Linked DNA regions of Homo sapiens: regions 1, 2, 4 and 5 are each linked to region 3. Evidence: fine-mapped expression QTL. A gene starts in region 3. Each other region holds a variant in brackets. All regions are shown on one strand. Distances are between the middles of the regions.

Region 1 (6,193 bases), 24 kb after region 3:
CTGTCATTAATCTTATCTCTTTGCAAGGGAAAATAAACTCCTTGAACTGTTTTTACATCCAGCTCATTATGAACTTCTCTGTGGTCTGTGATCTTAGGTCAGCCTTTGGTACTATCTAGTTCCCTTCTATAAACCAAACATGTATTGAGCCCGGTCTCTGGCATGTACAACCCAGTGTTGGGCACCAGCAAACATGCAGGTAGGTTAGTACCCGGTTCTTAAAGAAATGACATCATGAGGCTTCAGCCTAGACAAGTACTTGGCCAAAGGGTGACCCCGCTGCGAAGTACACTAAGCCCCTTGGAGGCCATGAGATGGTCAGTGAAGGCTGCACAGAGGACAGATCTGAGCAGGGAAAGAGAGCAAGCAGGGAAAGATGCCAGGAGATGTTTGCAACTTATCTCAGCAGAAGTCGGGAGCCACTGATGGTTTTTGAGCCAGATAGTTATGAAACCAGATGAAGGTTTCGGGAAAGTTGGTTCAGCAAGTCCATTCAGCATTCACTCAACACACCCATATTAAGCACCTTCTATGTTTTGGGCACCGTTTAGGCATTGTAGGTGCATCAGTTAACAAAACGGACAATACCTCCGCCTCATGGCATTTATATTCCAGCTGCAGGGGTGGGGGTTAAGGAAGTCAAGCTTGTATTACTTATAAGCCACATAGTGTGTGGAAGATGAGAATGCGAAAGAGATAGGTAAAGGAGATTGGGAGTGCCATGCATGGGGAGGCATCATGTAGGGTGCCTGGAGTCTGGGAGACCAGTCAGGATGACAGGGTGTGGGGATGAGACCTGAGCTCCAGCAGTGGTGGCGGGAAGGACAGAAGGGCAGAAAGGCAGGGTTCAGCCTCATGCTCCTCTGTTCTTGTCTCCTTTCAGGAACACAATGCACAACATCCGTGGCAACAAGCAGGCCCAGGGAACAGGCCATGAACCTCCAGGGGAAGATTCTCCACAGAGTGGGGAGCCTCAGAGGGAGGAGCAGCCCTTGGCCTCTGACGCCAGCACCCCAGGTGAGCCTCTGTCCAGGGCTGAGCTGCCTTCAGGGACCAGCTCCTCACGGCTGGCACAAGTGCCTTCTTTCCTTCCAGCGAACCAGCATTTGTGCTTTTGTGTGTGTCTTAGTTGGCTTGGGCTACTTACTGAAACACCATAGACTGCGTGGCTTAAATAACAGATACTTATTTCTCACAGTTGTGTGGAAGCTGGGAGGTCCAAGATCAAGGTGCCGGCAGATTCAATGTGTGGTGAGGGCTCCCTTCCTGGCTTGCAGATAGATGGCCACCTTCTCACTGTGTGTTCACGTGGCCGAAAGAGCTCTGGTCTCTGCTGCTTATTCTAAGGGTACTGATCTTATCAGGGGCTCCACCCTCATGACATTAAATCTGATCACCTCCCAAGGGCCCCACCTGTTAATACCACCACGCTACTAAAAATACAAAAGTTAGCTGGGCATGGTGGCCAGTGCCTACAATTCCAGCTACTCAGGAGGCTGAGGCAGGAGAACCACTTGAACCTGGGAGGCAGAGGTTGTAGTGAGTCGAGATTGCACCACAGCACTCCAGCCTGGGTGACAGAGTGAGACTCCGTCTCAAACAAAACCAAAAACAAATGTACACATGTGATAAAATGGCATAGACCTATACACACATATTGTACCAACACCAGTTTCCTAGAGTTGATAGTGTACTATAGCTATGTAAGATGTCACCATCAGGGGAAGCTTGGTGAAGAGTACTTGGGACATGTCTGCACTATCTTTGCAACTTCCTGTGAGTCTATAATTTTTTCAGAGTAAAAAATTAAGAAGAGGCTGGGCATGGTGGCTCACGCTTGTAATCCCAGCACTTTGGGAGGCCAAGGCTGGAGGATTGCTTGAGCCCAGGAGTTCAAGACAAGCCTGGGCAACACAGGGAGACCCTGTCTTTACAAAAAAATAAAAAAATTAGCTGATCATGGTGCAAGCCTGTAGTCCCAGCTACTTGGGATGCTCAGCTGGGAGGATCACTTGAGCCAGGGAGGTCGAGGCTGCAGTGAGCCGTGATCATGCATGGGTGACAGAGTGAGACACTGTCAAAAAAAAAAACAGAAAAAGAGAAAGAAGAAAAGAAAAAGCACCCTTTGGAGCAGTCAGTGCCTGGCAGAGCCCTAGAGAGCACAACAAGCAGTCCAAGAGAAGGCCAGTGCTATATCGGATGAGTCACCATCATCATAACACTAGCAGTTACTTCATGCCAGTGCGGCAGTAAGCATTTTTTTTGGCAACAACTTTATTAAGATATATTCATGTACTATACAATTCACCCATTTAAAATGTGTAATTCAGTGGCTTTCTGTATATCCTCAGAATTATGCAGCCGTCACTATAATCAATTTTAGAACATTTTTATTACCCCAAAAAGAAACCTGCACCCTTAGTCATCAACCTTAATCCCCACTGCCCCATAACCCTAGGTGGCCACTCATCTTTCTTTCTCTATGGCTGTGCCTGTTCTCGACATCTGCTGTGAGTGGAATATACCAAGGAATATACCATGCTGTGACTGGCTTCTTTGACTTAGTAGAATCTTTTCAAGTTTCATCTGTGTGTACCAAGCACTTTACCTACCTTGACCTATTTAATTCTTACAGCAACTGGAACTGTATATATTGTATATATTGTTGTTATCCTCATTAGATTAATAAGGAAACTGAGGCATGGAAGGGTGGAGTGACTTGCTCACGGCCACAGAGTGAGTGACAGAACAAAATCTAATATATAAAGCAGATAAATCCACCATAAGTTGAAAATATCATAAGTTGAAAATGCATTTAATATACTTAACCTATTGAACAGTATAGTTTTGCCCAGTCTATCTTAACCATGCTTGGAACACATACATTTGGGCAAAATCATCTAACACAAAACCTATTTTCTAATAAAGTGTTGAATATCTCAACACTGTGTTAAACTGTGTTAAACGGTGTTTACACTGTGTTAAACAGTGGTTGTAATCAGATTTTTAAATGGAGGAAAAGATTATTTTTATGTCAATAAATCTTTTCTAATATGTACAAATGAGTTTCTTGAACACTAATAAAAAACACCTAAATTCTTTTTGAGACTCTAAATGAGCTACAAATTAAAAAAAAAAAAAAAAAAAAAAAAAGCAGAGTTGAGGCTGGAGTTGGAGTCTGGACTCCTCCTCTGCTCCTCTTACTCCACCTTCCTCTCCCAGTCAGCCCTTGAGGCACTCCTATGAAATCCAGGGCACTGATTGAACACCACTGTCTTAGGCCTTATTTTCTCTAATTATAAACTGGGCACTGTGAGGCCTGCCCTGCCTGTCCTCAGAGTTGGTGCACAGTCATGTATCAGAGGGCAGCAGTGCTACAAGGAGCTTCCCTGCTCCCCTATACCCCATTACAGGAAGGAGAAAGAGGTAGTACATATTTCTGAGCTCTGCAGGCTGCCTTGTACCCAGTGTAACCTGATTTCTCTTCGATCTGGAACAAGACTGTTCTGGTTTTGCACTCAGCAAGGCACTGTTGTTTTGTTCGTTTGTTTTGAGTCAGAGTCTCGCTCTGTTGCCCAGGCTAAAGCGCACTGGCATGATCTCGGCTCACTACAACCTCTGCCTCCCGGGTTCAAGTGATTTCTGGCTAATTTTTGTATTTTTAGTAGAAACGGGGTTTCACCATGTTGGCC[G/AG]GGTGGTCTCGAACTCCTGACTTCAAGTGATCTACCCGCCTCAGCCTCCCAAAGTCCTAGGATTACAGGCGTGAGCCACCACGCCCGGCCGAGCAAGGTACTGTTTTTGCACTCAGTGTCTGGTTCCTGTCACCTACTGGAGTAACTCTTTATTTGTTCAAGACTGTTTGGCCAGCCCTTGGCCTGGTCTCATGCTAAGTCATTTGGCCTATCCCCAAAGCCCTGCGTGTCCCCTATCCTGGGATGCCATACCACATTCTTATTTTCAACACCTTTAACACTTTAGTCCCAAGAAATAGGTAATAGTTTACTAAAATGCATACTCCTGCAAATGAGTAATTTGGTTAGGAGATTTAGATAAGATCAATTTACGATCCTACAAAATATCTGAGAGTAGGCAGTAAATGTGGCTGTAAGCTCAGCAGCCAAGGCAAAGAGGGAAATGCAAGCAGCTAGATTATTTCCAGTGTCCATAAGACTAAAAACATATTTTCTTATAAGAAGCAAAGCTTTTCTTGGAAGTTCCTAGGGCTGAAGGGAATTTCTTCTGCTGGGGACTCATAATAGGCATGATGTATATATCCCATGTGAACAAGCTTCTCAAGGGCCCTTGGCTACATAGTCAGGCCCTTAAATGTCCCTTGATGCAGGCTGATGGCAGAGACCAGAAGCACAGCTGGGTCAGGGCAGGACAAGGCAACACAAGGGAATGATTCTCTGATGTTTGGTTTGATTTAAGAATAAAATTTTGATGACTTAAAAACAGTGGGTGGCAAACATTTTTTGTAAAGAGCAAGATAGTAACGATTCGAGGCTTTGTGGGCCATAGGGTTTCTGTTTTAAGCACTCAGTTCTGCCTTTGAGGAGTAAAAGCAGCAATAGACAGCACATAAACAAATGGGCATGGCCGTGTTCTAATAAAGCTTTATTTGTAAAAGCAGGCTGTGGGCTGGATTTGGCCTGTGAACCATAGGTTGTAACCCAGGAGATAAAAGGACTATGCATCCTTGAGACAATCAACTGTGGGGGAAATATATCTCTTAACTTAGCTTGGAATAAGAAGAATCAAGTTAAATGCTTGAGCTGCTCTCTGGAGCAAGAATGCAGAGTACAGACATTCATTTTGTGTTCCTATCATCAGACAGATCTGTGTGCTTTGAAAATCTCCTAGTACATAGAGGTGGGATCCTGAAATAAGGAACAGAACATCCTGCCAGGGCTTGTGCCTGAGGAGAAAGCCACTTGGCAAACACCAGCAGGGTGGCATGAGATAGACCAATGCAGGCTGGGTGGGATCTGAAGGAAGGAGACAGGCACAGTTTAGCAGATGGGCCAGCACAGTGCAATAACGTTTATGTAGGCCAGTGGTTCTCACAGTCTAACCCCTGGACAAGCTGTGTCAGCATCACCTAGGAACTTTTTAGAAGTGCATATTCTCAAGCCCTGCCCCAGACCTATTAAATCCAGAGCTCCGAAATTAGGGCCCAACCATCCGCATTTTAACAAGCCCTCCAGGTGCTTCTAAAGCAAGCTCAGGTTTGAGAACTGCTGATGTCATCAGTCATAACTTCTGCGTTTCTCCTCTTGAGCAGGGAGAGAGCCAGAGGATTCTCCAAAGCCTGCACCCAAGCCTTCTCTGACCATCAGTTTCGCTCAGAAAGCCAAGCGCCAGAACAACACCTTCCCATTCTTTTCTGAAGGAATCACACGGAACCGAACTGCCCAGGAGAAAGTGGCAGCCTTGGAGCAACAGGTTCTGATGCTCACCAAGGAGTTAAAGTCTCAGAAGGTGAGGTCTGGTCCCAGGGAGGCCCCAGGTTCCAGTGGACCCCTCCAGTTCCTGGAGCCTTTCGGATAAGCTAGATGGGACGCATTAGCCGTGCTGGGCACCAGCTACTCTCTGGTCTTTAAAGGCCAAACTGCAGAATGTTGAAATATGCTGTTGATTACTCAAGAACCTGATGTCACTCAAAGTAAGTCACAAAAGGGCACCAAGGGCAGGTATCTCTGGAGATCTACTCTAATAACTGTCTCTTGGACCCCTCCTGGAGGGCCATGCATGGTCTCACCCCCTACCCAGAAAATGACATTATTTAGAGGCAGGTGATCTGGATGCAGGGTCATGGGAGGGGCTGTCGATAGAACTGGGGGGAACTTTGACCTGGCAGCCGATATCTGGGCACAGATATCTGAATGACCGTCACAAGACTGTCACAGGAGAAAGCAAACAAGCAGCATGTGTGTGGCCCAGGGCTAAGCCAGGACCAACACAGAAACAGTGAAAGGAATATTTGGGCTTAATATGGTAAGAAGTTAATTACGAGAGTTACAAGAGCTATATAATAATTGTAGAAAACAGATCTCATACACACAGACATTAAAACTACTCCAAAATCCTACATCCCAGAGAGTAAATGGTATTAAAAGCCAGGGGCTACCTTATGAAGTAGTGAGGGTCCCAGGGCAAAGATGTGAGAGGGCTGCAGCTCCGGGCGGGAGCC
Region 2 (6,193 bases), 130 kb after region 3:
ACCATTGGTGTTTCTCAGCAGGGGCACCTGCTAAACTGGGGGCAGAACAGGTCTCCACTGGGTAGGACTATCCCATGTCTGGCAGCCCTGGCCCCTGCCCACCAGTGCCAAGAACAGCATCTCTCCCCCTCCATCCAAGTCATTATGACAACCAGAAATGTTCCCCATGGTAAGACCTTCTGGATGACCTCTGAGGCCACCCCAGTTCTGACTTTTGCTGCTGCTCTCAGATAGGAGCGGGATTTGGACTTGTCTTCCCAGAGCTTCTGTCTTAGAGGAAAAAGGGTGGGCTTTGGGTCATGGTGGGGGAGGATTGAATATTAAAATAAGGGCCCAGGCCCAGCACAGTGGCTCATGCCTATAATTCCAGCACTTTGGGAGGCCAAGGTGGGAGAATCACTTGAGCCCAGGAGTTCAAGGCCAGCCTGGGCAGCATAGTGAGACCCCATGTCTACGAAAATGAAAAAATAAAAAATTAGCCAGGCGTGGTGGCACACACCTGTGGTCCCACCTACTCGGGAGGCTGAGGCGGGAAGATGGCTTGAGACCAGGAGGTTGCAATGAGCTGTGATTGCACTACTGCTCTCCAGCCTGGGCAATAAAGTGAGACCCTGTCTCAAAAAAATAAGATAAAATCTAAAATAAAATGAATATCCCCTCATCACCCTCCTGCCTTGATGACAGGGCCCCCAGTTTCCTGGTGTTCCCTTGAGTGAGATGGGTTTGCCGATCATCAAAAAAAGCCAGGTCTTTGCTGCATGGCTGGGTTGCTGATGAGCTGATGAGCTCCAGCTCTGAATCTCACCCTCCTCTTCCTTCTCCTCCTCCTCAGGGAGATGGCAACATCCGCTACTACGAGGTGAGCGCCGACAAGCCTCACCTGAGCTACCTGACTGAGTACCGCTCCTATAACCCACAGAAGGGGATCGGTAAGTGAGGGACACTGAAGTTCATGCCTGTAATCCCAGCACTTCGGGAGGCCGAGGTGGGAGAATCAGGGTCAGGGCTTCAGTGCGGGGTCTGGGGAGACAGGGATGAGTCAGATGGGAGGAGAGACAGCATAGCAACACTCTGACTTGGTGGGGGCTGTACTTGACGTGTGCAACAGCACAAAGGAGGAAGTCAGGGAAGGCTTCTCAGAGGAGGCAACATTGGAGGAACTGAAAGAGGAAGCAGAGCCCAGCAGGGGAGAGAGGGATGTGTTCTAGGTCAAGGTTAAGCAGTTACCACAAGAGCAGAGATGGAAAGGGCTGACCTAGAAGAGCCTCTAGGAAGCAGTCCTCAGTTCCTTTCTAAGTGTGCTTGAGGATTAAAAACACAGCTATATTTCTGTAATCTACAAGAAACCCACTTTAAACATAAAGACATGGCTAGATTAAAAGTAAGGGACTGGAGAAAGATGCACCCTGCTAACCCTACTCAAAAGGAATCTGGAGCGGTTTGATTAAGAGCATTTGGGTCACAGGAGCTGTGGGGATGGAGATGGGGAACCTTAAGCAGAGCAAACTGCCTATAAAAGTTCAGCTAATCCAGCACTTTGGGAGGCCAAAGCTGGAGGATCACTTGAGCCTAGGAATTCGAGCCTAGCCTGGGCAACAAAGTGAGACTCCTGTCTCTACAAATAAATAAAAAAATTGAGGTGCATACCTGTGGTCCCAGCTACTTGGGACGCTAAGGCAGGAGGATCGCTTGAGCCCAGGAGTGTGAGACTGCGGTGAGCTATGATTGTGCCACTGCACTCCAGCCTGGGCAACAGAGTGAGACCTTGTGTCAAAAAGAAAAAAATTCAGCTAAAATAATTTAAATCTTTGAAGGTGAAGAGTCTGATTAATTCAACTCCATTTCCCAACATAGGGCCCAGCCCAGTGTCGGTATTTGTCCCTGAGCTGTTTTCTGGGAGGAGACTGGTCTCTGTTCAGGTCCAGGTGTGCAGCCTGGCTTTGGCCCTAACACTGTGGCCCCAGCCTAGCCAGAACCTCTTGGCCCTCCCTGTCTGCCTTCAGGTGTCATGCCAAAGAGAGGACTCGACGTGTCCTCCTGCGAGATCTTCCGCTTCTACAAGCTGATCACAACCAAAAGCCTCATCGAGCCCATCTCCATGATTGTGCCCCGGCGGGTAAGGGCAGTCGGGACCGCATGGGAGGCAGGTGGGGAACCTGTCCTGGAGAAGACAGACCCAGGGCTGTCGGGCACCAGAGCCTGGAGCCCACGTTCATGGGGCAGCCACAGAGCGGCCTTTCTCACAGCCAGTGTGACATCAGTGGGCGTCAGGAGTCCTGGGTCTCGGTCCACCTCTGTTCTTGAGCTGCTGCGTGACCTCGGGCAAGTCCCTTTGTTCTCTGGGCCTCAGTTTCCTCAATTCAGCAGGGGTTGGTGAGAGCCTGGACTCCCAGGTCTAAGGGCCTTTCCCATCTGAGCAGCCTACCCTACCACCCTCCTCACTGTCTGGATTTCTCCTGCAGTCAGAATCCTACCAAGAGGACATATACCCTCCAACAGCAGGGGCCCAGCCCTCCCTGACGGCCCAGGAGTGGCTCAGCGGGATGAATCGAGGTGAGGAAGGCAGAGAAGAGGCCCAGGCAAATGTGACAGGAACATGGCGTGCCCAGTGGCCCCAAGCAATTGAGAGGGGTTGGGCCTGGATTTTTCTTCTCTCATGACCTCAGAAGCCATGCCCTTGACCTTCAGTCCCCAGTGGGTAGCATGGTCACATACAGGTCCAGAAAGTCAGGGGGCTTGACCCAAGAGCTCAGAAAACTCCAACTCAAGGGACTTTGCCCCACGGAAAGCTTCTTTACACTCTGGGGCTATGTGGGGTGCCTGGACCACCTCAGCCAGACTCCCTGTCCCTGTTCCCCACCCCTACCTCTGCAATTCTTTTTTTTTTTTTTTTTTTTTTTTTTTTGAGACAGAGTCTCGCTTTGTTGCCCAGGCTGGAGTGCAGTGGTACAATCTCAGCTCACTGCAACCTCCACCCCACCCCCAGGTTCAAGTGATTCTCATGCCTCAGCCTCCTGAGTAGCTGGGACTACAGGCACGTGCCACCATGCCCAGCTAATTTTTCGTATTTTTAGTAGAGATGGGGGTTTTGCCATGTTGGCCAGGCTGGTCTCAAACTCTTGACCTCAAGTGATCCACCTGCCTCGGCCTCCCGAAGTGCTGGGATTACAGGTGCGAGCCACTGGGCCTGGCCTTTTGCAATTCTTCTTGACCCAAGAAGCCCTCCAGGCAGCAACCC[C/T]CACCCAGGTCCCTCTGCCCACTCTGCCTGTCCTGAGCCACTCTCCCGCTCCTGCCAACACGGGGGCCAGCCCAGCAGAAGCAGTCACCCCAGCTGCTCCCTCTCCCTTCCACCCCCACAAACTTCCTTCACCCCCACCCCAGTGGCTGAGCGGGCCTCCTGGTGTACTGGAAGAGCCTCTGCCTTGGGGGGCAGCGGACCAGGGCCGAGTCCTAGTTTTGGATAACCTTAAGTAGGTTTTGCTCCCTGGGCCTCAGTTTCCTCATCTGTAGCCATGATGCCAGCCTCCCCTGCTTTCTGGAGGTGGTGAGAGAACTAATGAACTTGGTAGATGGTGGGGTGCAGTGTGGGTGGGACTGTCCTTACAAAGCAAGGGCAAGGTCTCATGTGAGTTTGAAGTGTTTGGGGGCTGCTTCAGTGCACGCACCGTGCTGTTCCTACAAACCAAGCTTCACTCTGAGGGTGGCACACGTGGGTATTTGTATCTGTTAGCCCTGCTCTGTGGGTTTGGGCCTGTCCACAGGTAGCTGTATTTCCCACACATGTTGCATGGGTCTGCATGGCTCTGAGTGTCTCTGCATGCCTGCCTGTGTCATTGGTGCCCCATATGCCCATCTTCCCGTGGGCACCCCGTCCTCACATGGCTCTGCTTCCCTTCCAGACCCAATCCTGGTGTCCCTTAGGCCTGGCTCTGAGCTGCTGAGACCCCACCCACTGCCTGCAGAGAGACCTATCTTCAATTCCATGGCCCCAGCCTCACCCCGGCTCTTGAATCAGACAGAAAAGCTGGCTGCAGAAGATGGCTGGAGGTCTTCCTCCCTGTTGGAGGAGAAGATGCCAAGGTGGGCAGCAGAACACAGGCTGGAGGAGAAGAAAACCTGGCTGACAAATGGCTTTGACGTTTTCGAATGCCCCCCACCAAAGACAGAGAATGAGGTGTGAAGGAGGACGGGGTGGGCCTTTCACATGGGGCAGCTGGGGTGGAGGGGAACAGATCCAGGCTGAGAAGAAGGGAGAAAATGAGGCATGAGAAGAATAACCAGCTGTGTGGCCTGGCCTAGTCACTTGACTCATTTTGTTAATTCATTCAACAAACAGGCAGTGAGCTCCATCTTATGCCAAAATGATGGGCATACATAAAGATGGTGGGAGGCTGGGCACAGTGGCTCACTCTTGTAATCCCAGCACTTTGGGAGGCCAAGGCGGGCAGATCATGAGGTCAGGAGTTCAAGACCAGCATGGCCAACATAGTGAAACCCCATCTCTACTAAAAATACAAAAATTAGCCGGGTGTGGTGGCGTACACCTGTAGTCCCAGCTACTTGAGAGGTTGAGGCAGGAGAATGGCTTGAAATTGGGAGGTGGAGGTTGCAGTGAGCCAAGATCACACCACTGCACTCCAGCCTGGGCAACAGAGCAAGACTCCATCTTAAAAAAAAAAAAAAAAAAAGATGGTGGGGACCAGGTGACCAGGTGCAGTGGCTCACACCTGTAATCCCAGCACTTTGGTAGGCCAAGGCGGGTGGATCTCTTGAGGCCAGAAGTTTGAGACCAGCCTGGCCAACATGGCGAAACCCCGTCTCTACTAAAAATACAAAAATTAGCTGGGTATGGTGGTGCGTGCCTGTAGTCCCAGCTACTCTGGAGGCTGAGGCAGGAGAATTGCTTGAACCCAGGAGGCAGAGGCTGCAGTGAGCCAGGATCACACCACTGCGCTCCAGCCTGGGCAACAGAGTGAGACTCTGTCTCAAAAAAAAAAAAAAAAAAAAAAAAAATGGTGGGAAACCATCTGTAAAATGGAGAGGGTTTGACCTAGTGGGTATCAAAGTCTTTCCAGTTCTGACATTATAGGACTTTCTGTGCTTTCAAAGTCCACATTTGTTTAGTGCCTACTGTGTGGCAGATCCTGGGGTAGGCACTTTGATACAGCACGTGATTGAATTCTCTCAACAGCCCTGGAAGTCAGTCTGTAGTGGCTAAGAACACAGAGGCTGGCATCTCACAGATGGATTCTGATCCTGGCTCTGCTGAGTACTAATTTAGGGTCTTAGACCCAGAGACTGAATGTCTCTAAGCTTCCGTTTCCACGGTGGTACGGTGGGGACACTAGCACTGCCACCCTTATAGGGGTGTCACAACGTTCCAGTGGGATAACGAGGCCCTTAGGGCATCACTCAATATCTAACACCCATTCTGCACAGAGGGCAGTTTTCTGACCCCATTTTCCAGAGGAAGGAATGGAAGCTCAGAGTGGGTAAGTAACTTGCCCAAGGTCACACAGTTCAGTGGTGGCGAAAACACCAATCCCCAGACTTCAGAGCCAGGCATCCTTTCCTCTATTTCATGGAGGATCTATGGAAGCAAAATACATCTGAAACATTCCAGTCTTCTTGAATTTCATTTATTGGGTGAAGTAAACAAGGTGTTTGTAAAAGATCTATGCAGTGACAGCCCCATCAGGCCTCAGCCATGTTAATGTGACCGCCTCCACCTTTCTGAGTCAAAGAGGGATAGTGGTTTAGCTTTCAGCTGGTGTCCTGACACCATGGTGATCCTGCCTTCCGATCTTTCTTCCCCAGTTGCTGCAGATGTTCTACCGGCAACAGGAGGAGATCCGAAGGCTCCGGGAGCTGTTGACCCAGCGAGAGGTCCAGGCCAAACAGTTGGAACTGGAGATCAAAAACTTGCGGATGGGCTCAGAGCAGCTCTGAGCAGAGACCTCTGCCCTCCTCACCCTCAGGGACACCACTCGGCTCCATGGGGAGGTTTAGAACCAAACCACAAGTCCCCTCAAGGACAACCACTATTTCTATATTTTTTACCAGAAAACAAAACTCTCCATCGCTGAAAGAGATTCCAGTGGGACATGGTGCCGTTTTTCTGTTTGCCTTCTTGCAACAACAGTTTCTGAATTGACTTTGTTTTCAGATGATGCCTTCTGTTGAATTCTGTTAT
Region 3 (6,193 bases):
GAGCCGATACCGCTCCAGTGCACTCCAGCCTGGGTGACAGAGCAAGACTCTGTCTCAAAAAAAAAAAAAAAAAAAAAGCCTATCGAGAGTTTGATTGAAAATGTATTAACTGTATGGATTAATTTGAGGAATGTGACATCTTTACAATATTAACTCTTCCCACTCAGGGACATATTTGGTTTGTCTTATATCCTACTATAAAGCAATAAGGTATTCATTATGTAAGTCATTTATGTAAGGGATGTTGTCCATTATATTTTCCATTTGTTTGCTGCTGGAGACATCTATACACATATGCACAGTTTTTTAAAACAGGCCACCACTTGAGTTTTTCTGGTATACGTAATATATTTATAATTATTCTTTCAAATATTTATCATTGCCTAGCTACAAAACCTAGAACAAATAAGGTATGCTGTTTGTTTTATTAAGAGGTTTTAAAAATCAGGAATGGGGCCAGGCACTGTGGCTCATGCCTGTAATCCCAGCACTTTGGGAGGCCAAGGCCGGTGGATCACAAGGTCAGGAGATCCAGACCATCCTAGCCAACATGGTGAAACCCCGTCTCAACTAAAAATACAAAAATTAGCTGGGTATGGTGACGCGTGTATGTAATCCCAGCTACTCGGGAGGCTGAGGCAGGAGAATGGGAATTGGAGAGCATGCCACTGCACTCCAGCTTGGGCGACAGAGCGAGACTCTGTATCAAAAAAAAAAAAAAAAAAAAAAATTAAAAAAAAAGAAAAGAAAAGAAACTGGCTGGGTGCGGTGGCAGGAGAATCGCTTGAATCCGGGAGGCGGAGGTCACGGTGAGCCGAGATCGCGCCATTGCACTCCAGCCTGCGCAACAAGAGCGAAACTCTGTCTCGAAAAGAAAAGAAATATTTTGTCCCACATTCTGTACTAAGAGCTTCACACATATTATTTTATTTAATTATCAAAACAACTCTAAGGGTAGACAGGTGTAGATCCAGGTTTTGTGGGGACTGGAATTAAACAGCATTAAGGGCCTTCTGATTTTTAAAAAATTACAAAATTATGAACACAAAATTAGGTATGACGATGGTTATTTAGAATGAGAAAATAAATTGTAAATTATAACAAATGAAGAGCTCTCTGGCATTTAGGAGAAATGCTCCCTGGTTGCAACTCCCCACCTGTTAGACTACAAATCCCAGCGACCCATGCAAGTGAACATAAATTTCATTAGCTTCACCGTAAAGTTGTCTGGCGGCGGGTCGGGGGTGGGTAGGAAGAAGTGTTATCTCCATTTTTAGGTTGAGCAAATCACTCAGTATTGCAGAGTGGGAATCTGAAAATTATGCAAATAGACTCTAGAGCCCTCGCCTTTACCCCCACCCTGCTTCTTGTCAATATCACTGAGTGTGCATGAGGGTCTCGTTAACGACGGCTGAGGGGGAGACGATGAAGTAAGAGGAAAGGCTGAACAAAGGGCAAGAGAAAGGCAGAAAGAAGCTCCTAAAGAAAGCTGGACGCAATTGGGCTCCGCAACCCTAATGGAGAAATGCGCCTTAGGAGGGAAGGGGAGAAGTTTAAGGGGAAACAGGTAAAATGAGGCAGAAGTTGAGCAAGTTAGTCAAACCCTAAATTCTTTTACTTATTTACAAAACAGCCTGGCGCGGTGGCTCTCGCCTGTAATTCCAGCACTTTAGGAGGCCGAGGCAGGAGAATCGCTTGAGGCCAGGAGTTCAAGACCCCCCTCTCTGCAAAAAACAATTTAAAAATTAGCCGGGTGTGGTGGTGCGCAGTTGCGGTCTCAGCTACTCGGGAGACTGAGGCGGGAGGATGGCTTGAGACCGGGAGGCGGAGACTGCAGTGAGCTCTGATCGCGCCACTGCACTCCAGCCTGGGTGACAGAGCCAGACCGTCTCTAAAAATAATAATAGCAATAACAAAATAAAAATAAATGTACTGCACCCAACTATGACCCAGGAGTGGCATGGGTTTCCGCAGCGCAGCGGCCGCGCCTGGGCGCCCCAAGCAACACAACCAGCGCTGTCAGGAGGCGAATAGGAGCCAGGACAGAGAGCTGGGGAGGCCACTGCTGTCAGGCGAGGGATAAGAAGGCCGTCCGCGGCGTCACTGACGGGGCTGAAGGAACACCAGGAGAAGAGTGGCAGACAGCTCCGGAGCCGCGCTGCCCGGGCGACGCCGGAAGATGGGCCTCCCAGCGGTCTTCCTTTCAGCCAATGGCCGCGAGATGCGCCGTCCGAGGGTGCCCCGCGCGGCACAGGGAGGGAACAAGCAGCCCATCGGGTGCAAGAAAGCACTATCTTTCTAGGTGACTATGCGAACTACCAGGGAAGTGTAGCTAGGGACAGGCTTCTCTGCCCGCGGTTAACCTAACTCAGTGCCACCACGCCTTTAACCTGAAGCCAGGGAGCACGGCTGCCCTCAGTAAAGATGGCTGACTGGCGCGGAGAAAAAGCCGGAAGCAGCTGGGCTTTGCAGGGAGCCGACTGAGCGCTGCGGGGGCGTGGCCTGGCGGTGGAGGGGCGTGGCCAGCCGCCGTAACCTGGGTTTGCGATCTTTGAGGCGCGCGCACCGCACCCGGTCCCGACTCTGTGGCTTCCTGGGGGCGGGTTCGCCGTCGGCCCCGCCCCCGCCCAGGTGTCTCCCTTTGGGAAGCTGCCCGCCGAGTCTCCGAGATTTGTCCCTGGTGGTCCCGCGGACCCCTCGTCCCTCCGCAGTCTCCGGCTGGCAGCGATGGAGGGCGCTGGGGAGAACGCCCCGGAGTCCAGCTCCTCTGCCCCTGGGTCCGAAGAGTCTGCCAGGGATCCACAGGTGCCGCCTCCGGAGGAAGAATCGGGGGACTGCGCCCGGTCCCTGGAGGCGGTCCCCAAGAAACTCTGTGGGTATTTAAGTAAGTTCGGCGGCAAAGGGCCCATCCGGGGCTGGAAATCCCGCTGGTTCTTCTACGACGAAAGGAAATGTCAGCTGTATTACTCGCGGACCGCTCAGGATGCCAATCCCTTGGACAGCATCGACCTCTCCAGTGCAGTGTTTGACTGTAAGGCGGACGCTGAGGAGGGGATCTTCGAAATCAAGACTCCCAGCCGGGTTATTACCCTGAAGGTAAATTCCTGCAACGACTTTCTCCTTTCCAGCGGCGTGAGGTCCCCTTTTCGCAGGGCAAGGCTGGGCGCGAGTGTGAGGTGGACACAGTAAATTTGGAGTGTCGGTGACGACAGTTCCAAGAACTTTGTGCTTTGCAAAGTGCATTCCCACCCATTTCCTCATTGGGTTCCCACAAGGCAGGGAAGACAGACCCATTTTACGGATCAAGAAACTGAGTCAGAGGGAGATGAAAGGACTGGCTCGAGGTCCATGCGTCTAGAGAGTAGGGTAGCTTGGAATCCCATAGTCTTTCTACCTCTCAGTGCTGAATCAAAACTTTTACTTTTGGGTGTGCCTGACAGTGCAGTTACCTTAACTTTCTTACCTGGGACCTAAGTAAGTCAAAATATGGTCTTTGCAATCCTCTCTCAAGGCCAGGATTCTGATTCCCGTTTCTTGATATTTTGGCCAAGGTCAGTGAATGCTGAGAAGAGACTGGCAGGGATTAGGAAAATAAACACTTAGGTTTCACTGATCAGCCTAGATTGTTCATCTAGGCATGCTTAAACCTGTTTTCCTATCAGCAGCAAGGGGTAGGTTTTATCATCATGTGTAACTGAGAAAGCCTAAAGCAGTAGAAAGGCCACATTCTTTGAAATCAGACGGGCTTGGATTCAAATTGTACATTTGCTACTTACTAGCTGTGTGACCCTGGACAAGTTACTTAACCTCTCAGAACCTAGGTGGTTTGTAAGCATTTGACACATCACAGGCATGTACAAATTGTTGAATTAATTGCATCACCTAGAATACAGCCTGGTACCTAGTGGAGTACTTAATAATTTTTTGTTGCATAAGCACACATGCACACACAAGGTGATGGAACCAAGGTCAGAGTGCTAATGTCAAGAGGAGGTGTCCCATAACTTAATTGGAAAGACAGATCTGGGCTAAGTGTTCTATGGGCATCAGAGAAGAATGTGCCAGGAGATAGCCTTCCCCACCCCATCCCCATCTGTCCACCCCTCCAACCCCAACTCCAGCTAAGTGGGTATCTGTGGATGCCCACGTGTTCAGTTCTCCTTTACTGACTGGACTTGGCGGGTGACCAGGCTGGGGGACTTGGTTAAAATAATGAAACTCAGGAATCCCTGGCCAGGGAAGGCATTTTCGAGGTCATGTGGTTCCCGGGTCTATGTGTCTCTTCCACAGGTTGACTGCTGTATGCAGGGTCTTCAACACATGGTCTTTATAATAGTATTCCATTGTTCCTGGCTCTGCGCTTGGCGGGGTGTGGAGCTAATGCACCCCCACCCCTGGTTCTCTGACAGCTTAAAGTCTGGTGGGAGAGACTGAGGGAGAACCTGCATGCACCCTGAAATGTTCTGTAGAGACATGTGATAAGTCTGTGCAAGAAGGTGTGGTGACAGGAGGAGTCAGTTCCACCAAGTGGAAGGGGCTAGCCAGAAAGGCATCTGGAGGAGGGACACACCCAAGGCTTGAAAGAAGAAATAGGTGGCAAGCAGACAAGAGGGAGAAAGGTATTCCAGGCCAAGAGAGCACCGTGAGCAAATTAGGAAACCATGATACAGCCCTGAGTGTCCAGGCAAATCACATGAGCCAGAAAAACAGAGGGGCCCAAAGGATGGAGTTGAAGAGCAGAGGCCCGAGGGTGGGGAATTGGCAAATTAGGCCAAGTAGCAAAAGCTCAGTCTGACTATTGGATAGAGAAGAAACTAGGGGAAGGGCAAGGCTGGTACTCAGGGAGCCCATCAGAAGGTGATCAGAAGAGAGTGACAGCTGAACTAGAGCTGTGGCTGTGGGGAAGGGGACAATGGAGGTGTCTCGGGATAGTAGGGAAATAGAATGAGGGAGATGTCAGGAGTGGCTGGAGTAACTGGCTGACTGCCTGGTTGGGTCAGTCACTGACAGGAGGGAACTCAGGATGAGGAGCCCATGGAACATCCAGGTACATGTCCCCTGCAGGAGACTCTCAAGTTCCAAGGGGACAGGGACCATGTGTGTTGGCTCACCCCTGTATTCAGTGCCTAGCACTATCTCTGACACATATGTCAATGCTCAGTATACCCTTGTCAAATGAGTTAATAAAATGGGGTATTTGGGTTCGGCTGGAGCTCATCAGCATTAAGGTCATGGGGAAGACCTGGGAGGTGCTGCAGTCTCTCTGAGAGAGTGTATGGAAAGAGAACACTGGTGGGCATCATTTATCTTATTGATACCTGTGTGACAGCCTGAGGGTCACTTTCACAGACTCCCCCCTGCATAGTGCACACCAGTGAACCCCTGAGATAGGGAGTTTGCCTCTGTTGCCATGTAGCCCGCTGTTGTTCTCATGTGGCCTTGATTGCAGGCAGCTCTCTGAGAATCCCCATCCACGCCCGGTGAGCTGTTCATCTTCTGCAGTCCACCTCAGCTGATCTCAGGCCTTCTTTATGAAGCCACTAATCTCCTGGCCATAAAATCCAACTTCTAGACCAGGGTTATGGGACTAGTTCTACCACCACATGCCTGGGCAACTTCAGAGGTTTAGTTTCTCCATCTGTAGAAAGGGGTGCTCACTCCTGCCTTGCCTCCCTCCTGAAGAATCCAGGAGTTATTGGATGTGAAAGTGGATGTTTGGACCAACCGCCAGCCAGTGCTGGGAGACTAATGACCAGCATTTACCATGAACTTGTTTGGAGGGCCAGAGCACCTGGAAGGTGCCACCATGTTGTCACATGTGCATGTGGCTTTCCAGTCTCCATTCATATCCATGATTCCAGTGCATCCCCAAGGCAAGGATTACTCCTATTCCACAAAAGGCAGCAAAGACTTGGAGATGTCACACAGAGATAGTGATGGTACCAGGACCCCACGCATATCAGAATTCAGTGCACCTCCCCCTCTCACAGCGCCTCCAAATTCCTCTATCCAGTGAGCACATTTTGAGCACCTACTGTGTGTCAGATACTGTGTGATACCCTTGTCTCATTTCATCCTCATCATTGTCCTATGCAATGAGACTTATTGTCACCAGAGTACAGATGAGGAAACTGAGGCCCAGAGCAGCTAAGGAACCGCTGAGTGGGAGACCAGAGCCTGATGATCTTCTGTG
Region 4 (6,193 bases), 41 kb after region 3:
AATTCCCGGGCTCCTGCTTCCCTGGTCCCCCTTCTCCAGGGTTTTCCTTCTTTCATTCCACTGGTGACTGTCCTGTGGCTTTTCTCTTTTCTGAGGTTTCTCTTTTTCCTCCCTACAGTTCTGAGCCAAGACGAGCACTCAAGGTAGGGCATCGAGCTGGAGGGGGAGGTACTGCCCGACGCCACCCACTGCCACTGCTGTTCCAGGCTGTGCTCACTCTGCCTCCCTGTCCGGCATGTCTGTGCCTTCCCTAGAGCTGGAAGCAGGGTATCTTATGTGACAAAAGCCTTCTTTCCAAAGCCTTAGAAATAACAGTGTGTAGCCAAGCGTGGTGGCTCACAATCCAGTGCTTTGAGAGGCCACGGTTGGAGGATTGCATGAGGCCAGGAGTTTGAGACCAGCCTAGGCAACATAATGAGACCTTTTTAAAAAATTAAAAATTAATTAGCTGGGTGTAGTGGCACACACTTGTAGTCCCAACTACTCAGGGGCCTGAGACAGGAGGATCACTTGAGCCCAGGAGGTCAAGAGTGCAGTGAGCTATGATCATGCCATTGCATTCCAGCCTGGGTGACAAAGTGAGACCCTTTCTCTAAAAATAAAAAAAGAAAGAAAAATAAATAAATATCCATGAGCACATCTAGGCCTGGGAGGAGGAAGGGGTGATATCAAGGAGGGAGACCCAGTGGTGTGGAGCAGTGGCCAGCGCCAGAGCTGGGTCTGCTTTCTCTACGCAGTGTCTGCTGAGCACCTGCCATGGGCTGAACACACCTGGGTTTGGATCCTGGCTCTCTTTCGTGACAAGGGGAACTTACTTTCTCTGTGTGTGTTTCCTCATCTGTTAAATGGGAATTAGGGCACTTTAATAGTTATCCCACAGCCTTGTGGATATGAGGGAGATGGGTCAGGTCATGGTAGGTCCTTTCCTCCCTTGCGGGGGGGCTTGTTGTATTTTCCCGGGCATTGGATTCCGAACTCTGTGAGCCGACTGAGGGGGTGGGTGCAGGGTGGGGAATAGTAGCTCTCGAGCTGTCATGCAAACTCAGTGAGGGAGACGATGCTCACGCTCACGTTGCACTTGCCACATGCCAGGCACCGTTCTGAGCCTTTTGCACATATTAACTCACTGAATCCTCTCCCAGCCACATGAGGTAGTACTGTTATTATCCTCATTTTCCAGATGAGAGGATGAGGTTAAGTAACTTGTCCAGGGGCTCAGTGGTCAAGACAGAATTTCCACCCAGACAGCGTGCCCGCAGCATTCATGCCACTGACCACCAGGCGGTGCCGGTACATGGCCAACTCCAGCGTCTTTGATGTGTTGTTATACTGTCTGATGGGTAGGAGAGGTCACATAAGCCTGCATGCGTGTAGCCAGGAGACACCAAAGGACAACGCTTGGAGGGTAGGGACTAGAGTGTGGGCATCCAGGTGGATTCCAGCTGGTGGGGAGCTCAGATGGTGCCCGGCAGGAAGTTTGGTGATTAGGGCTTTAGAATGAGACAGTCCTGGCCAGGCACAGTGGCTCATGCCTGTAATCCTAACACTTTAGGAGGCCGAGGTGGAAGGATTGCTTGAGGCCAGGAGTTTGAAAACAGCCTGGGAAACATAGTGAGACCTCGTCTCTACAAAATCAAAAAATTAGCTAGGCATGGTGGTGCCTGCCTATAGTCCCAGCTACTTGACAGGCTGAGGTGGGAGGATTGCTTGAGTCCAGGAGGTCGAGGCTGCCATGAGCTATGATCACGCCACTGTACTCCAGCTTGGGCGACAGAGCAAGACAAACAAACAAAAAGAATCAGACAGACCTGGGTTTGGTCACATCTGCCTTATACTGGCTGTGCCTTAGGCAAGTTGCCTACCCTTTCAGAGCCTCTGAGGCCTCATCTGTGTCATAGGAATAATAAAAGAACATCCCTTCTAGGGTTGCTAGGAGGATGAAGTGAGAGAATATATGCTGCGTGGTGTTGGTGATGGGGGTGATGCCGGAAGCCTGCACAGCCTCTGTATTCATAAGTTTCTATATCTCCAGACAGTAAAGTGTTAGACTCCAGAGAGAGTGGGGAGTGGTCCAGGAAAGGCCTGATGCTCATGGGAGACTGGTCCCTGTGCCACAAACAAGATTTTCACTTCTTGCCACATAAGGATAGGATATGGGGACTGTGGAGAAGAAGCAGGCAGAAACTTGCCAGCAGAGCGGCTGGCGCACACAGCAGCATTTTTGAGAGGCAGTGAAGCTGGTTTTTTATCTAGGTCAGGGACAGGATTGGATAGGGGGAGGAGGGTGGCGCCAGGGGTTGGAACTGCCTGGGTCCAGCCAGAAGGCAGAGAGCAAGCTGAGTGGATGCACAGCCTTTCAGCCTTGGCACAGCGAGGGAGATGAAAGCAGGGGTGGCCTGGGTTGGGGCACCACAGAGAGCCCCCGTGGAGTGGTGAGGGGTGATGTGATAAAGTCAACAGGGGGCATTCGTTCCCTCCCCTGGGAGCAGAGGCCCTTCTAGTGTGTCAGGCTCTGGGCGGAGGGCAGCAGCCCCTGGGCAGGCATCGGAGCTTCCAGCCTGGGGAGACCTTGGAGATCATCTTGGCCAGAGTGAAGACCCACCCAGGGAGGGCCAGGACCACCTGTGGGCTGTGCACATGTGACCCTGACGAGGATGTGCCCCAAACTACATGTGATGTTCTTCATTTCCAAATCAATCTGGCCACGTCGGAGTCATCCTTGCTGCAGCATCGCTTGCACATGTGATGTTCTTCATTTCCAAATCAACCTGGCCACGTCGGAGTCATCCTTGCTGCAGCATCGCTTGCACATGTGATGTTCTTCATTTCCAAATCAACCTGGCCACGTCGGAGTCATCCTTGCTGCAGCATCGCTTGCACATGTGATGTTCTTCATTTCCAAATCAACCTGGCCACGTCGGAGTCATCCTTGCTGCAGCATCGCTTGCACATGTGATGTTCTTCATTTCCAAATCAACCTGGCCACGTCGGAGTCATCCTTGCTGCAGCATCGCTTGCACATGTGATGTTCTTCATTTCCAAATCAATCTGGCCACGTCGGAGTCATCCTTGCTGCAGCATCGCTTGCACATGTGATGTTCTTCATTTCCAAATCAACCTGGCCATGTCGGAGTCATCCTTGCTGCAGCATCGCTTGCACTCACCTCCAGCCCATACATCAATGGGAGAGAAAGGGCCTGAGTTTCAGCCAGTAAATACCCTGGAATTGTGAGGTATAGCTCTAAGAATGTGTTACGTGACTGAACGGCTTCTGTAATGTCCATCCCAGCAGAATTGAGAGCCACTGCTATAGCTGATCCTTCTCTGAGGCTCAGGTCCTTGCTTGAACCTTCCCAGTGCTTGTCTGGCTTCTCCTTGTATGCCCCAGCAGCAGGGAGCTCATTCCCTCCACTGGATGGGCAACTTGCAAAAGGAAAACTCAGAGATGTTTATCACAGCATTATTCATAATCAAAAACCAACTGCAAACACCCCAGGTTCAAATTAAAAAATGACAGGAAAAGGATTATGAGTAAGTTCTGGTAAATTCACCCAATAGAATCATCACCAGAGGTTAAAAATGATCACTGGGAAGCTTATGTAGCAACATTGAAAGGTTTTACAAAGTGACACTGAGTTAATTTTACAGTATGATTGTAAATATATGATAAAATATGTTGATTTTAAAAACAAACACTACTTGAGCACTTGCTATGTTTTGGTCCCTGTACTTA[G/T]TGTTGTCACACATTATCTCACTTAGTTTCCCAACTGCCCAGTAGGTTAGTTGGTATTTGCCCCTTTTACAGATGAGGAAACAGAGGGTCAGAGTGGTTCAGTGGCCTGCCTGAGGCCTTCCAGCCAGAACATCAGCCAGGACTTAAATTCAGACCTACTGGTCCCTTTACCACATCATGCTGACATCAAGAATAGAGAAGGGTGCTATGAGTATTTTATTTTTCTTTCAGACTTCCTCTTCTGTTGCCATTATTGGAAATTTCTAAGGAAAAGAAGCTTTGGGGGCTCATTTGAGGGTGTGACTCCCCAGGACCAGGGAGATGTTTATGTCCAACTGATAACATATTTTACTCTCTTCTCCAGGATGACATGGAAGCTTACCGGACCCAGAACTGCTTCCTCAACTCCGAGATCCACCAGGTCACAAAGATCTGGAGAAAGGTGGCTGAGAAGGAGAAGGCCCTTCTGACGAAGGTGCGGGGTGGGGCCCTATTCCAGCCGTCTCCATCCCTGGCCCCTCTGCTGGTCCCCATGCTGCCCACTCCGTCTCACTCTCCTCATTTCCTGTCTGCCCCTCTCCCTCTGAACTGACCCCTTGTGAGCAGGGCCCATATCAGGTTCTTCTCCAGACCCCTGTGGTCGGGGGATTGAGTCATTTGTTCCGCAGCGTTCACTGAGTAGCTGTGGGGTAGGGACATCAAGACCAATAAGGCTGGTTCCTGCCTACAAGGAGGGTATAGACTAGTGAGGGAGTGTAACCCAATCAAGATGTACTTGGGGCCAGGCGTGGTGGCTCACACCTGTAATCCCAGCACTTTAGGAGGCCGAGGCGGGTGGATCACAAGGTCAGGAGATTGAGACCATCCTGGCCAACACGGTGAAACCCCATCTCTACTAAATATACAAAAAAAAATTAGCCGGGCATGGTGGCGGGCGCCTGCAGTCCCGGCCACCCGGGAGGCTGAGGCAGGAGAATGGCGTGAACCTGGGAGGCGGAGCTTGCAGTGAGCCGAGATTGCGCCACTGCACTCCAGCCTGGGCAACAGAGCAAGACTCTGTCTCAAAAAAAAAAAAAGATGCACTTGGACTTGTGGGATTCTTGGGGGCCCAAAGGGAGGAAGGAAAGTCAGGGAGGGCTTCCTGGAGGAGGTACCTTCTGAATTGAGTCCTAAGGATGAGTTAATGTTATCCAGGCAAGCAGTGGAGAAGGACCTTCCAGGAAAAGAGACAGCATAGTAAAGACGTGTGGTCTGAGAGGTGGGGGGCAGGGCTAGGGAGAGTGAGACATGAGGCTGGAGTTGAGGAGTTTGGAATTTACTCCAAGGAAACTGGGGAGCTGAAGGATTCTGAGTGGAGAAGTCCTCAATCAGACTTCTGTTCCTGTTCCAAGAAGACTGCTGTGACTGCTCAGGAGGGTGGGCTTGAGAAGGTGGGCCTGGAAGTAGGGAGATTGTTTGGAATCAGCAGCAGAAATCCCTGAGAAGGGGCCAGGTGCGGTGGCACAGGCCTGTAATCCCAGCGCTTTGGGAGGCCGAGGCAGGTGGATCCCTTGGGGCTAGAGTTCAAGACCAGCCTGGGCAACATGGTGAAGCCCCGCCTCTACCAAAAATACAAAAATTAGCTGGGCGTGGTGGTGCACACCTGTAATCCCAGCTACTCAGGAGGCTGAGGCACGAGAATCATTTGAACCCCGGAGGTAGAGGTTGCAGTGAGCCAAGATCATGCCACTGCACTCCAGCTTGGATGACAGAGCGAGACTCTCTCAGGAAAAAAAAAAAAAAGGAATCCCTGAAACAGGTGTTAACGATGGGACTCAGGAAGCAGCCCAGGCAACAGAGGTGGGCACCAGGTGGGATAGGTAGAAGAACAGGCACAGAGGATGGCTTGGAGCTGGTGCCCGGCAAGTGTTTGGAGATGGCGACCGGGCAAGGGTGCAACAGAATTGTTCCCCTGCTGCCACCCCAGGATGAGATAGGATTCGGGGTGGCCCAGAGATCATGGCAGTGCTATGAGTGGATTTTCACTGTCCCCATCTCACAAAAATGGAAAACAAGGAACTTGCCTGACTTGCCTAGCACCACCCAGCTTGTATAAATGTAAACACAAAAGTTCAAGGTGAGGTAGGGTTGGGGGGAGTGTCCCAAGCAAGGGAAGAGGGTGCAGGAGGGCTGTGAAGTGGGAGGGGTGTGTGTTGGAGGAACAGAAGGAGCCTAGGTGGCAGCAGCAGAGGGCATGAGGGCAGTGTCCATCCCCTGGGCGCTGTTCAGTCATACCACCTGCAGAGCTTGCTCTGTGCCAGGCACCCTGGGAAGGGCTTTATACACATCCGCTCATCTGATCCTCACCCAAATCCTCAGGCAGACTCTGTATGATCCTCATTTTACAGATGAAGAAGTTAAGGCACAGAAAGGTTAAGTAACTTGCCACAGACCACCCAGCTAGCAGTGGCTGAACCAGGA
Region 5 (6,193 bases), 21 kb before region 3:
GAAGGACCCACTGGAAAGCCAGCACTCAGACACCTGCCTGGCAGAGGAACAGACAGCCAGATAGGAACAAAAGAAGTGATGCCAGCAGAAAGAAGACTGTAACCTCACGCAAGGAGTCACAGAAAGCAGTGTTCTGATACCTCTCCCCTCTCTTGCCTCCTTTCCCTGATATCTCAGAGAAAATAGAGAATGGGAGAGCAAACCTCATCACCTCCCTCCCTGCCCCAAGTCACAGAAACCTCAAGTGCCTGCCTGGGAAGAGTGCACTTTTTTTTTTTTTTTAAACATCCAGAGACTCTTTACTTTTTGTGGCTTTATTGAGATAGAATCCACATACCACACAATTCACCCTTGTAAAGGGTGCAATTCAGCCAGGCATGGTGGCTCACACCTATAATCCCAATGCTTTGGGAGGCCAAGACAGGAGGATCCCTTGAGCCCAGGAGTTTGAGACCAGCCTGGACAGCATAAGGGGACTCCATCTCTACACAAAATTTAAAAATTAGCCCGGCGTGGGGGATGCACGCCTGTAGTCCCAGCTACTCAGGAAGCTGAGGCAGGAGGATCACTTGAGCCCAGGAGTTTGAGGTTATAGTGAGCATGATTTTGCCACTACAACAGACTGAGATCCTAAAAAAATAAAATAAAATGAATTAAAGTATACAATTCAAATTTTTTAGTATATTCACAGATTCATACAATCATCTCCACAATCTAACTTTGGAACATTTTCATCACTCCAAGAAGAGTTAGCTGACAGTCCCTATTTCTCCCCAAGTTCCCCCAGCCTAAGCAACCACGAAATCTACTTTCTGTCTCTGTAAGTTTGGACATTTCACATAAATGGAACTTGCAATATGTGGTTCTTTGTGATGGGCTTCTTTTACTTAAGATAATGGGTTCAAAATTCATGTGTTATCAATATGAATGCAAGATAATGCATTCATATTGCAGCATGGATCAGGACTGCCTCAACTTTTATTGCCGAATATAGTCTATAGTATGTGTATACATTTTACTTTATGCAATTATTATCCATGTTATCAGTTAGCAAACATTTGAGTTGTTTCTACTTTTGGACTATTATGAATAATGATATTATGAACACTCAAGTTTTTGTGTGGACATAATGTCTTTGTTTTTCTTGGGGATATAACTAGGAGTGGAATTGCTGGGTTGTATGGTAACTCTAGTTTTAACTGTTTGAGGAACTGCCAGATTTTTCCACTGCAGCTACAACATTTTACATTCTCATCAGCATGTATGAGGGTTCCAATTTCTCCTTATGCTTACCAACATTTGTTATTATCTATTTTTAAAAAAAAATTCATAGCCATCCTGGTAGATGTGAAGTATCTCATTGTGGTTTTCGTTTGCATTTCCCTGATGGCTAAAGATATTGAGCATCTTTTCATGTACTTATTGGCCATTGACATATCTTCTTTGCAAAAATGTCTGTTCAGAGCCTTTGCCTTTTATTTATTTATTTCTGGAACGGGGCCTCACTTTGTCGCCCAGGCTGGAATGCAGTGGTGTGATAACAACGGCTCACTGCACCCTAGAATTCCTGGGGCTTAAAGGAATCCTCCCACTTCAAATTCCCGAGTAGCTAGGACTGCAAGCGCAAGCCACCACTCCCTAATTTTTTTAGTTTTGTAGAGACAGAGCCTCCCTATGTTGCCCAGCTAGTCTCCAATTCCTGGGTTCCAAGCAATCCTCCCACCTCAGCCTCCCAACGTGCTGGGATTATAGGCATGAGCCACTGCACCCGGCGCCATTTTTAAGTTGAATAATTTGAATTCTTCCTATTGAGATGTAAGAGTTTGTTATGTATTCTAGATACAAGTTTCTTATTTGATCCACGATTTGCAAATATTTTCTTCCATTCAATGGGTTATCTTTTCATGTTATTGAGGGTGTTCTTTAAAGCATAAAAGTTTTTAATTTTGATGAAGTCTTACTTTTTTCTTTTATTGCTTATGCTTTTGCTGTCATATCTAAGCTCAAATCACAAATACTTCTGTTTTTCTTCTGAAAGTTTTTTAGTTTTAGCTCTTACATTTACAATCCATTTGAGTTAATTTTTGGGTAAGGTATGCGTAAGGAGTGCAACTTCATTCTTCTGCATGTGGGTAGCCAATTATCCTAGCACCATTAATTGAAAAGATAATTCTTTCCTCCACTGAATTGTCTTAGCATCCTTGTGGAAAATCAATTGACTATAAATGCAAGGGTTTATTTCTGGATTCTTAGTTCTATTCCATTGATCTAGATGTCTATCATTTTGTCCAGTGATTCTTAGTAACTGAACATGAAGGGAGAAGCCTGAGATATTATTAAGGGAAGCTACAAGTGGGAAAGAAGGTTCCACAGAGTCCAACTGGTCACTGGGAAAAAGTCCATCATTTCGCATTTGTGCCTCAAAGAGTTAAGACTCCTCCAACCACTTCTAGTGAAGGAACATTCCCAACCCGTATCATGTCTGCTTTTCCAAATGGGGTACATGGAATGATCCATTTCCCTTAGCTGCTATCATAAATGAGTGTTGCATTTTCATAAACTATTTTTCAGCACTGATTGTGATTATTCTCTTTTAATCTGTTAATCTGGTGAATTACATTATTAGATTTGCTAATAGTAGATATATTTGATGCTTACATTTCTAGGGTAAACCTAACTAGGTCATTTTTTATTTAATACATTACTAAAGTATGCCATTATTTTGTTTAGGATTTTTGCATCTAAAATCATGAATAAATTTGATGCTTTATTTTTTCTTTTTCATTCTGGCTTTGGAATCAAGGTCATCACTAGCCTCGTAAAATGATTTGAGGGGATGTTGCCTCTTTTTCTAATCTCTGAAAGGGTTTGTATAAAATTAGAATTGTCAGTTTGTTTGTTTTTAATTGAGATGGGGTCTCACTATGTTGCCCAAGTTGGTCTTGAACTCCTGGCCTCAAACGATCCTCCTGTCCCGGCTTCCCAAAATGCTGGGATTACAGGTGTGAGCCACCATGCCTGGCCTAGAGTTGTCAGTTCTTTGAACGTTTAGCAGAATTGTTTTGTAGGTTGATTTTAATCTACTAATTCAGTTTCTTCAACTGTTACAGATTTG[G/T]TTTTCTTTTTCTGTGCAAGTGAGTTTTATAAGTTTTATTTTCCTAGAAACATGTCTATTTCATGGAAGCTTTCAAACTATTAGCATAAAGTTGTTTGTAGTACTTATTTTTTTAATCTGTTGCATTTGTAATTATGTCCCTTTTTCATACGTTATATTGCTATGCATCCTTTTTCTGACTTAACTAAAGTTACAAGGTTGTATTTTATTCTTCTATTGAAAAAATACAAGTTTGGGTTTGGTTGAGCATCTCTACTGTGTTTTTCTATATGATTTCATTAATGTGTGCTCTTATCTTTATTATCTTCTTGTACTTTGTTTTCTTTGCTACTTAAATTATGGTCATTTGTTTGTGGGCATGACATCATTATCTATTAAAATATAAGTGGGTATGTTAGTCCATTCTGTCAGGCCTGTGCGCCCAAGCTAAGGCATCATATCCCCTGTGACCTGCACATATACATCCAGATGGCCTGAAGTAACTGAAGAATCACAAAAGAAGTGAAAATGGCCTGCTCCTGCCTTAACTGATGACATTACCTTGTGAAATTCCTTCTCCTGGCTCATCCTGGCTCAAAAGCTCCCCAACTGAGCACCTTGTGTCCCCCGCCCCTGCCCGCCAGAGAACAACCCCCTTTGACTGTAATTTCCACTACCTACCCAAATCCTATAAAACGGCCCCACCCCTATCTCCCTTCACTGACTCTCTTTTCGGACTCAGCCCGCCTGCACCCAGGTAATTAAAAAGCTTTATTGCTCACACAAAGCCTGTTTGGTGGTCTCTTCACACGGATGCGCGTGAAACATTCCTGCTGCTATAACAAAATATCTTAGACTGGGTAATTATGATTAACAAAAATTTATTCCCCACAGTTCTGGAGGCTGGGAAGTCAGTCCACTGATGAAGGCCCTTTCAGTGTCAAGGGAGGATTTGCCCTCTGCTTCCAAAATGGTGCCTTATTGGTGAGTCCTTACGTAGCAGATGGCAGAAGAACAAAAGGGACTGGGTGCCCTCTTCAACCTCTTCTGTAAGAGCGCTAATCCCATTCATGAGGGCAGTGTGCTCATGATTAATCACTTCCCCAAAGGCTCCATCTCTTAATACTATCACATTGGGTATTGTTTCCAATGTAATGAATTGCGGAGGGACACATACATTCAAATCATAGCAGTGGGCATTCTCTTAGGCCCAACGATTCCACTTTAGTTCTATATTCTATATTAATATTAGAAAATATCTAAAAAGATATATGTATAATGTTGGAGGTCAGTTGCAGTGACTTATGCCTGTAATCCCAGAACTTTAGGAGGCCGAGGGAGGAGGATTGCTTGAGTCCAGAAGTTCAAGACAAGACCAGCCTGGGCAACATAGTGAGACCTCGGCTATTTTTTTTTTTTTAAAGATGGGCTTTGCAACATTATTTATAACTAGAAACAATTAGAAATAACCTGAATGTGAAGATACAGTCATACTATGTGTCAGGCCTCTGAGCCCAAGCTAAGCCATCATATCCCCTGTGACCTGCACGTACACATCCAGATGGCCGGTTCCTGCCTTAACTGATGACATTCCACCACAAAAGAAGTGAAAATGGCCTATTCCTGCCTTAACTGATGACATTGTCTTGTGAAATTCCTTCTCCTGGCTCATCCTGGCTCAAAAGCTCCCCCACTGAGTACCTTGTGACCTCCACTCCTGCCCGCCAGAGTACAACCCCCCTTTGACTGTAATTTTACTTTACCTACCCAAATATTATAAAACGGCCCCACCCCATCTCCCTGCACTGACTCTTTTCGGACTCAGCCCGCCTGCACCCAGGTGAAATAAACAGCTTTATTGCTCACACAAAGCCTGTTTGGTGGTCTCTTCACACGGAAGCGAGTGAAACTATGGAATACCGTTCAGCTGTTAAAAGGAATAAGGCAAATCTAATATCTATTGACTTGAAAAGAGCTCCATGAGATAATATTAAGGGGGAGGGGGTGCAATGAAGAAAAATAGGTAAAGAATGACAATATTTTTGTTTTAAAAATTGCATATGGTCACATATTTATATCCCTATATGTAGTCCCACTGGATGCAGTCATAGCCATTTAGCCCTAAGGAGCCACTGCTAATTCCATCCAGAGGTAAGATCCTTCAAAGCTGGGGAAGCCTCATCTCCAAGCATATAGGTGCTCCCTACCTCCATAGACAGCCTCCAACCATAACCTCAGGGCATCACTTCCACCCCTTACAAGTCCTAAGACTGGTTTAGGTGAGAAGTTCTGAGAGGACAGGGTGGGGAGAGGGGTTGGGGGCTCTGCAGGCCTTGGGAACCATAATGACATTCCCAACCCACGTCTTCTCCCACCCTTTCAAGGTCATTGGTTGTGAGTTATTCATACTTCTCCCTTCCTCAGGGAGGCTTGATTCTGCCCAACCTTCCTTGTGCTCCCCAAAAGTGCCTGACACCCATTGCTGGCTTCCCAGACAGCCAATCTGATTGACTTCTTCCTCTTCCCGGGGGGGCTTCTGTATCTCTTTGTGGCCCTCAGAGTATCCGAGGTCCCAGGTTAAACACAAATGCAGCATCTGTAAAAAACCCCATGCGTCAGCTTGAAGCAAATGCCTTTCCCAGTAAAATTGTTCTACTTTTCCACATAGCTTTGCAAGAGTGATATTTTTCCTCTCCCCATTCCCTAATTACCCCAAAATATGTGCCAAAGGGGGAAGACGTGACTTGGCAGGGCAGATGTCCCCATTGCTTAGCATCTCAGAGAAGAAATTTACAAGATGTCTGCCTTTGTTTGCCCTGCCATCACACCTCCAGTTCTGACCATGAGGTTTCTGAAGGAGCACTTCTAGAGGTGAGGAACTGGATAGTGACAAGTTGAAGCCTAGAAACTATGTCATGGGCGACACAGTTTAAGGAAGACTTGGGGGTAGTGGGAAAGTATGGCATGACAACTGTTAATTACTTCCTAGGGAAGCCATCATATATAAAACAGGCTGTCTGGCCAGGCGCGGTGGCTCACGCCTGTAATCCCAGCACTTTGGGAGGCCTAGACGGGCTGCTCACGAGGTCAGAAGTTTGA

Direction of the effects. Positions count from the first base shown, and alleles are read on the strand shown. Sizes are in standard deviations (SD) of each study's normalised expression. Not every link is listed here.
In carriers of allele G in region 4, the expression in monocytes after Pam3CSK4 of the gene that starts at base 2,620 in region 3 tends to be lower than with T alone (large effect, 1.0 SD a copy in Quach 2016).

The links. PIP is the estimated chance that this variant, and not a neighbour inherited with it, causes the effect. A credible set is the group of variants that fine-mapping cannot tell apart.
Region 1: its variant is the best candidate, but not a certain one, in a credible set for the expression of TBC1D2 in whole blood (TOPMed, PIP 0.63).
Region 2: its variant is the best candidate, but not a certain one, in a credible set for the expression of TBC1D2 in whole blood (INTERVAL, PIP 0.81).
Region 4: its variant is the best candidate, but not a certain one, in a credible set for the expression of TBC1D2 in monocytes after Pam3CSK4 (Quach 2016, PIP 0.53).
Region 5: its variant is the best candidate, but not a certain one, in a credible set for the expression of TBC1D2 in whole blood (TOPMed, PIP 0.78).

Annotation. Positions count from the first base shown.
Region 1 is chr9:98,228,240-98,234,432 of GRCh38, reverse strand. TBC1D2 (TBC1 domain family member 2) reads left to right here. Exons shown (of 13, transcript NM_001267571.2): 4 at 884-1,017; 5 at 5,285-5,481. It overlaps MIR6854 (microRNA 6854), which reads left to right and starts at 5,216; the gene lies at 5,216-5,284. The variant G/AG (reference allele first, on the strand shown) is at 3,693.
Region 2 is chr9:98,124,530-98,130,722 of GRCh38, reverse strand. It overlaps CORO2A (coronin 2A), which reads left to right. Exons shown (of 12, transcript NM_052820.4): 8 at 833-929; 9 at 2,004-2,116; 10 at 2,463-2,553; 11 at 3,900-4,174; 12 at 5,818-6,193. The coding sequence ends at 5,949. Among named protein-coding and RNA genes, the nearest start is that of TRIM14, 8.4 kb to the right of the region's middle. The variant C/T (reference allele first, on the strand shown) is at 3,239.
Region 3 is chr9:98,252,076-98,258,268 of GRCh38, reverse strand. It overlaps TBC1D2 (TBC1 domain family member 2), which reads left to right and starts at 2,620. Exons shown (of 13, transcript NM_001267571.2): 1 at 2,620-3,096. The coding sequence starts at 2,728. RefSeq lists an enhancer at 1,896-2,385 and a silencer at 2,556-2,605.
Region 4 is chr9:98,211,123-98,217,315 of GRCh38, reverse strand. It overlaps TBC1D2 (TBC1 domain family member 2), which reads left to right. Exons shown (of 13, transcript NM_001267571.2): 7 at 4,098-4,208. Among named protein-coding and RNA genes, the nearest start is that of MIR6854, 15 kb to the left of the region's middle. The variant G/T (reference allele first, on the strand shown) is at 3,734.
Region 5 is chr9:98,272,631-98,278,823 of GRCh38, reverse strand. No RefSeq gene overlaps it. Among named protein-coding and RNA genes, the nearest start is that of TBC1D2, 20 kb to the right of the region's middle. RefSeq lists enhancers at 3,337-3,869, 3,870-4,404, 4,437-4,970. The variant G/T (reference allele first, on the strand shown) is at 3,116.